Homo sapiens: one gene and its partner. The protein of the gene in region 2 purifies or fractionates together with the protein of the main gene of each other region. This does not show direct contact. Each region holds a gene or a part of one and is shown on either strand. Other genes may lie near its edges.

What was found. Proteins that work in one complex are often made in the same cells at the same time.
Region 1: the proteins of ZNF292 (region 2) and ZNF280D purify together in Homo sapiens (affinity purification with mass spectrometry, with the first as the bait; one large-scale study listed by BioGRID). This does not show direct contact.

Annotation. Positions count from the first base shown.
Region 1 is NC_000015.10:56,726,537-56,730,664, forward strand, and holds part of ZNF280D (zinc finger protein 280D), read right to left. Parts: intron 1-4,128. UniProt on the Homo sapiens protein: May function as a transcription factor.
Region 2 is NC_000006.12:87,158,411-87,162,538, reverse strand, and holds part of ZNF292 (zinc finger protein 292), read right to left. Parts: intron 1-4,128. UniProt on the Homo sapiens protein: May be involved in transcriptional regulation.

The DNA.
Region 1 (4,128 bases), on a different chromosome or scaffold from region 2:
TTAGTGGCTTTATTTTTCCTACATCTTGAAATATTTTGCTAACTCCATCATTCTAGGTATTATTTCACCATTGTTCATCAATTAATCCCAACTATGCTAAAAAAATAATAGGACTGCCTAAAAGAATAATACAACAGTGAAATAAATCATGACTAATGCATTAGCCTTAATTGTTCTCATTTATTTTCCAGTTTTCTTATAGTTTTGCAAAAATATTGCATCAATTTTCAAAGACATATGGAAAACTGAAGACATTTTTGTAGTCTATGTCAGAGAGGGAAAACAATTCCTCTATCACCTTTGGTTCAGTATCTCATGGCCTGTGAATTAAACTATGAAAAGACAGATTCACAAGAGAAGAAGCATACAATTTTTATTAATATTGACATGCACAGGAGTTCACAGAAAAGAAGTGAAACTCAAACAAGTGGTTAGACGTAGAGGCTTTTATACTATTTTAACCCCCCCAAAAAAGGGAACTTGGAATTTCAGGGACAATAAACCATGGGAAAGTGACTAGAAAAAATGGGAGAACTAATGGAAAATAACGGTTATTTTAGTAAAATTTGTTTATACAAACTCATCTCTGCCTTGACTCTCAATCTCAAGGGAAAAGAGTTGCTCTTCCCTCCCTGTTATAAGAAGGAAACTGGCTGGGCGTGGTGGCTCATGCCTGTAATCCCAGCACTTTGGGAGGTGGGTCACCTGAGGTCAGGAGTTCGAGACCAGCCTGGCCAACATGGCAAAACCCCGTCTCTACTAAAAATACAAAATTAGTCAGGCATGGTGGCGCACGCCTGTAGTTCCAGCTACTCGGGAGGCTGAGGCAGGAGAATCACTTGAACCCGGGAAGTGGAGGCTGCAGTGAGCTGAGATCACGCCATTGCATTCCAGCCTGGACAACAAGAGCAAGACACGGTCTCAAAAAGAAAAAAAAGAAAAAAGATAGAAATTAATGCCCTGCTACTACTAGGCAAATAAGGGGAGGGCACAGAACTCTTCCAGCATCTACTGACTCTCAATTGCCTTCAACTCAAAATAATCCTCATGCGTAAGTGGCAGATTCTGATCCCCTTCATCTGTTTCTAGTTTTCACTGAATACAATTAAGAACTCAGACTTCATTTTCTGCCCAAAATGGAAGAGAAGAAAATTAACAGAGGAAGGCATTTCACAACTATTAGACGAACCAGAAGATTAACACAAAGATAGACAGCAGCACTTTAGACTCTTAATGATGGTAGTGAAAATGACTTTATAAGGGAAATCTCAGACTGAGTCCTTGGATGAGTTACTTTAGATAAATTCCCTCAAACTTAATCAATGAGAGAATAACGTATTTCTAAAAACAAAAAGGAAATACGGCATTCTCATCCAGTGGGAAGAACTTCATCACACAATATTTTTACATTAAGAATATGGACCATGCTGTTCTGCTCAAAGAAAATGTGACAGTCTTTCATCCTTTACAAGTGTGTGCTAAAATTTTACTTAATACATTTTTTTTTTTTTAAGAGACAGGGTCTCACTCTGTCACCCAGGCTGGAGTGCAGTGACACAATTGCAGCTCACTGCAACCCAGACCTGAAGCGATCCTCCCACCTCAGCCTCCCAAGTACCTGGGACCACAGGCACATGCCACTACACCCGGCTAATTTTTTATTTTTTGTAGAGACAAGGTCTTCTTATGTTGCCCAGGCTAGTCTCAAACTCCTAGGCTCAAGCAATCCTGCCTTGGCCTCCCAAAGTGCTGGGATTACAGGCATAAGCCACCACACCCGGCCTTGATACAACGCTTAAGTGCCCAAGTATTGAATGCAGGGGTATGCAAAGGTGACTGGAAGGAAATAGAAAATATAGACATTTTAAAAAATTCATTGGATTGATCATTCTAGTTAGTTGCTCATAAATCTGAAATTGAAAAATCTTGCAATTGTGGAGCAAAGAAGATGGCCGTCCTGTCTTCAACAAAATTATGAACCATCAAAGGTTTCAAAAATTCTTCCAGTATTGCATTTTGATGATGTACATGCAAAAAGACAACCCAGAAGGAATGACAAGCAAGAACCTATCAGGGAAGCATTTGAAATTTAGAATCAGTATTTATAAGACAAATAGTTCCAGGGTCTTGTATGAAAGTTGCTAAGTACAGACAGTCTCCAACTTAAGATGGTTCAACTTACAACAATTTTCAACTTTATAATGGTGTGAAAGTGCATTCATTACTTCCAGTACTCATACAACCATTCTGTTTTTCACTTTCAGTACAGTACTCAATAAATTACATGAGATACTCAACACTTTATTATTAAAAAATAAGCTTTGAGTTAGATGATGTTGCCCAACTGTAGACTAATATAAATGTTCTGTGCATATTTGAGGTAGGCTAAGCCAAGCTACGATGTTCAGTATGTTAGGTGTATTAAATGCATTTTCAACTCATGATACTTTCAACTAATGACGGGTTTATCAAGGATGTAACCTATCGTAATTCAAGGAGCATCTATAGTTAATTCCATTCAGATGATGTTGCCCATTTCAGGTAGAAATACCTTCAAAAGGTGAAAAACATGAAATGAAAATCTGAGCAACAGGTGACAATGAAATATGATAAGCTTGGACAATGCAGATCTACACAGAGATTGGGAAAAGGCATGAAAGTAGAATCAAGATTGATATATACGAAATGACAGAAAAATTTCAAAATTCTGTCAGACATATAACTTGTGACAAATTTTTTACAAATTTAGACTTGGCTGAATATCACACAGCATCAAACTCTCCTTAGTTGGCACTGTTAGGAAGAACAGCATTGAACTTCTGTGAATTTTCACAAATGGAAAAGCAAAAGAAGTCAACTGCACAAAATCTGGATTTCGAATATAATTCATGATTCTTATTGTCCTAAGGAAAACTATACCTACTCTTCTCAGCTCAGTGCATTCTCAACCATCAATGAATTTTAAAATCCTTGCATAAATTAATCTGAAGTGATCTGTATTACAAAAAGACTACAGAAGTGACACATTCAAAAAGTGGGTCAGAAACAATACTTGGAAGAGAATGATTTGAAGATGGCTTATGACTGATATTAGTTCAGAGTATACTTTCATTGTACGGGAAAAGCTTCAGTTACAAAACTGGAAGTTACCAAGAAGAAATTCCTCATGCAACTAGGAAAATAACTTGCAGAAAATAGGAAGGGAATGTTGTCTTACCCTCTAACCACAATGATTTCTGCACAGATCTGAAAATGGGAAGAAAGAAAGATGTTCTTTGTACAGATACAGAAACTCAAAAAGAAAAAAATGTGTGTTACAATGAGAATGTTTATGCAAAGCGTTCAAATGTGATGTATATTTGTTGTAGGAGTGTTATGTAATTAAATGCATGAAATAGATTTTTTATTTTTTATTTTTCTAAGTACATACAAAGATATCTGCTGTATTGAAATTCTTATTAAAAGCTCCAATAAGTTGTTTTACATTATGCTTTATTTTTACTCCTATAAATTATACATAATAACGTAAAATGCAAAAAAAACCAGTCCCTTTTGACCCAGATGATAGTGATAATTGTACACTTTTCCTCGTATACTGAGGGTTAAGAGAATCCTTAAAATTGCTCTGGAGAAATAAATCAAAATTCTAAACATACAATTTTTGATATAAGGCACTGATTAAATCAAGTCATTATTTAAATCACTATTTAAAGCAATCTGAAAATTCAAAGTTTTTAATTCCTTTCTAAAGCAAGAAAAAAACTATTCAGGATTTATATATTTAATTAGTGAATATGTCGTAAGTATTCCTCATCTTCCAAAACTTGCTTTTGGAATAACAAAGTATGTTGTCAATAGAAATATCCAATTTCCTGTCACCTAAAACTACAGTTGACTTTTCATTTGTGAAAACTGCTATTTCAGTGAGCCAATGCTGATTAATAGAACACTGGAATGAAAAAGGACTGGATTAGTAGCCTAACTGGACAGATGTTCCAGTTGAAGCACTTGCAATCCTCCAACATCAAACTACTTCAGAACTTTTCTATTTACCATAGCTTACTATGGCTAAAATGGTCCTAAGCAAACTTTCAAAGAAGGCAAAGCTTTCTGACATCTACTTTCTGC
Region 2 (4,128 bases):
AAAGTTTAAATGACTTATTGCTCCCTCAATACCTAAAGTAATTATCACTAATTAACAAGCAAGCTGTCTTTTCTTCTGATTTAAAGTGTCCTACAAATTAAGATAGCCTCTAATAGTCAAAAAGAAAGTCTAATTTTTAAGGAAAATGCTTAGTTTCAAAGATCTTGCAGTTATAATGTAACATGTATATAAACAAAAGAATCAACTTGTATCAAACTGATGAGACATAAAATATACAAAGAAATGTCCTAAATATGTAATCTAAACATTCTGTAGCTCTAACAGTTTTAATTTGGTTTTTATTTCTTATACCAATCAGGCACCAATAATGGCTAACAAAGGTAATGAAGACTAGCTCAAATAGTACCTCCTCAGGAAAGCCTTCCCTGATACCCCAGCCTGAAGTGCTTACTACCTACTTTGAACTCTTTAAGTTGCTATACATAAAATTAACTTACTCTCCTAAATATCCACTGATAATGAACTGATTAATTAGACCCAGCCATAGACTAGAATTACTATATACTATAATAGGGAAAGCCAAAAACTTACATGAGCAGCTATGGAATGAGCTAGAAGATGCTTTTGGGGGGAGGGAAAGCAAGATACAGTGTAGTTATCTTTATTTTCTTAAAAAGAGCAAACTAGTTCTGGAAACCATTAGGGGATTTGTCTTTGTGGAAATGAGACTGGAACTCTAGAATGGGAAAAAGATCAAGTTTTCATTGTATGCCCTTTCTCAGGGTGAATTTTAAAAAACCATTTCAATTAGTACATTTTCAATTTAAAACAAAACAAAACAAACAACAAAAAAGCAAAACCAGGCTGGGTGCAGTGGCTCACGCCTATAGTCCCAGCACTTTGGGAGACCAAGGTGGGAGGACTGCTTGAGCACAGGAGTTTGAGACCAACCTGGGCAATGTAGGGAGATCTTGTCTCCACAAAAAATTTTAAAGTTAGGCATGTTGATGTGCACCTGTGGTCCCAGCTACTCAGGCTGAGGCAAGAGGATCGCTTAAGCCCAGTTGGTCAAGGATGCAGTGAGCCGTGACTGTGTCACTGCACTCCCACCTGGGTGACAGAGTGGAGACCCTGTCTCAAAAAAATAAAAATAAAGCAAAACAATTTGTTAGTTAATACACTGCCTTTTGACATCTTTTCAGCTGTCATTTTGAAGTGATATTTAAATATTATCTTACTAATTTATATCCCACTAGTTGCCCGTATCTTTTATCTCCTATAACATCTAAACCTAGGTCCTTGCATATAAATGCTTTCTTAAAAGTACAGAATTTATTATATCAAAATGTCAAATCTTTTCTTTAATCAGGATAATTATGCTGAATTTGCTACCCTCTTTAACCTAGCAAAAGTTGTTTTACTAACTGTTTATGCAATTGCTTGTAATTTCTGCTAAGAAAGTAGAAAGTTTCTTGACCTCTCATGGTCAGTATAAATTATACTTAAATATTGTTGAATATCATTTACCTGGACCTGTTCCAAATAAAGTATATTTCTGGAGCTTAACTATCTCAATATGAAAAGAGTAGAAGGACTAAAAAAAAAAATCTTCTAGATATACTATTTTTCTTTCTGTTCAATGTTTCTGAAAAGGGTACTTAGAGGAATTACGCTTTCATTTGTTGGGACGGTCCTGATCACTTCAGAAAACTTAGCATTGAAGCTCATGGGCACTAAATGCCAGTACCACATCCCTAGTCATAGCAACATCCAAAAACCTGATCCCACATATTTCTAAGTGCCATCAAAGAGAGAACTGGAGGTAGGGAAAGTACTATGCCCAGTTGAGAAGCCCTGCTTATATGAACTAAGAAAATTATATATATATATATACACACACACATCATATATATGTATATATACACACACACACACCGTATACATGTATGTATACACACACACATCGTATATATGTATATATACACACAAACATATTTTTTTATTAGAGTCTCCTGTATCTTATATCCTCTGTAACATCTAAACCTAGGTCCTTGCATATATATACACACACACACACACACACACATATATATACAAACACATGTACGTATGTATACACATACACACACGACTGTAATTCAACCCTTCAAAACAACTGTCAGCCACCAGATCACTACTGATCAATGGTCAATAACAGTTACAATCAACCAGTCGGCCAGTCCAGTATATAGTGCTGTCAGCAAATATCATACTCCAACAAATCAACTATTACAATGGCCAATTTTTCCAACGAACTATTATTTTAAAATCTCTTTAGAACAACTCCTCTGTTGGAATGTTTCTTTTAAAACTCCCAAATAACCTCCCTCTTTACTGTACTCACCTCAGTGATAAAATATATAAATCATAGTTTACTACGATTATCTGTCTACCTTCCTCCAGAGACTATAAACTCTTTGAAGCCAGGGACCATGATCATCCTTGCCTAGCCTGTATACAGTAGATGTTCAATAGAAATGTTGAATGAGTGACTACTGGCCCAGTCTAATACAATTAACTAGTCTAAAAGGTTCCAATTATAACCAATTTTTGTATAATAAATACAGTAATAATCCTAAAACAAGTAAATGCAAGAAATTACTTCTGGTTATTCTATATACTTATTCTAAGTCAATTTTAAGAAAATGAGTTGGTTATATTGCCCATATTAAAGCTAACTTTGAAAAGATACAAGGAAATTTAAGAGCTGGGCATGGTGGTGTATGCCTGAGGTCTCAGCTACTTAGAAGGCTGAGACAGGGCCGGGCGTGGTGGCTCACGCCTGTAATCCCAGCACTTTGGGAGGCCAAGAGGGGCGGAACCAGCCTGACCAACAAGGAGAAACCCTGTCTCTAGTAAAAATACAAAATTAGCCGGGCATGGTGGCACATGCCTGTAATCCCAGCTACTCAGGAGGCTGAGGCAGGAGAATTGCTTGAACCCAAGAGGCGGAGGTTGTGGTGAGCCCAGATTGCGCCATTGCACACCAGCCTGGGTGACAGAGTTAAACTACATCTTTTTTAAAAAAAAAAAAAAAAAAAAAGAAAGAAAAGAAAGCTGAGACAGGAGGATCACTTGAGCCTAAGAGTTTGAGGTTGTAGTGTGCTATGATCATACCTGGGCAATGTAGCAAGACCCCATCTCTCAAAAATAAAATAAAATATATAAAAAAATTTAAAATTTATGACGGGCGCTCTACTATGCCCATCCTCTACTTACTCTTCCCTCCTCCCACTTAAGCTTTAAGCAAATTCTCATTTAAATAAGCAAAGGGGGGGCAGGTGGCTTATTTCCAGAATGAGCAAAACAACACTGTTAATAAGAAAAACATTTAATGCCTTTCGTTTCTATTCTGCTACTCAGAATTCAAAAAATCTATTAATCTTCTACCTCACTCAAAAATAAAAATCTATAAACTACGGATCATAAGCAACTCCTGTTTCTGTGGGTTTCACCACATTCTCCAGAAACTGAACTTTTGCTCATAAAAATTACATAGAATGTAAACTAATTCATTTTTTAAAGTAAATGCAAAACTAAGGGTTACACAAGCACTGAGCATCAACACTGACAGAATATTAATTCTGAAGCCCATTAACTTTGACAAACGTTTATTCATCTTTGCCTTCTTGAAGCGTGTGACTATCCCAGTTTTACAGGAAAAGCTTAAACAGAAAAAGTTAAATAATAATCTCAAGGTTAGAAACTAAGACATAATTTCTAGCTCCTAGTATCCCTGGTACTATATTTAGATTGCGCCAATAAATTCTTTAATTGTTAACCATTGCTTCACTCAACTTCGTATCAAAATGCTAGGTGATAATTGCTAAGATACAATTTTATTTTTATTTTTTATTTTTTTGAGACAGGATCTTTCTCTGTCACCCGGGCTGGAGTGTGCACAGTGCACCATCTCTGCTCACTGCAACCTCTGCCTCCCGGGTTCAAATGATCCTCCCACCTCAGCCTCGTAAGTAGCTGGGACTACAGGCACTCGCCACAGCGCCTGGCTAATTTTTTTGATTTGTTTTGTTTTTTGTATTTTTTGTAGAGAAGGGGCCACGCCATGCTGCTCAGGCTCAAGCGATCCGCCCAACTCGGCCTCCCAAACTGCTGGGATTACAGGTG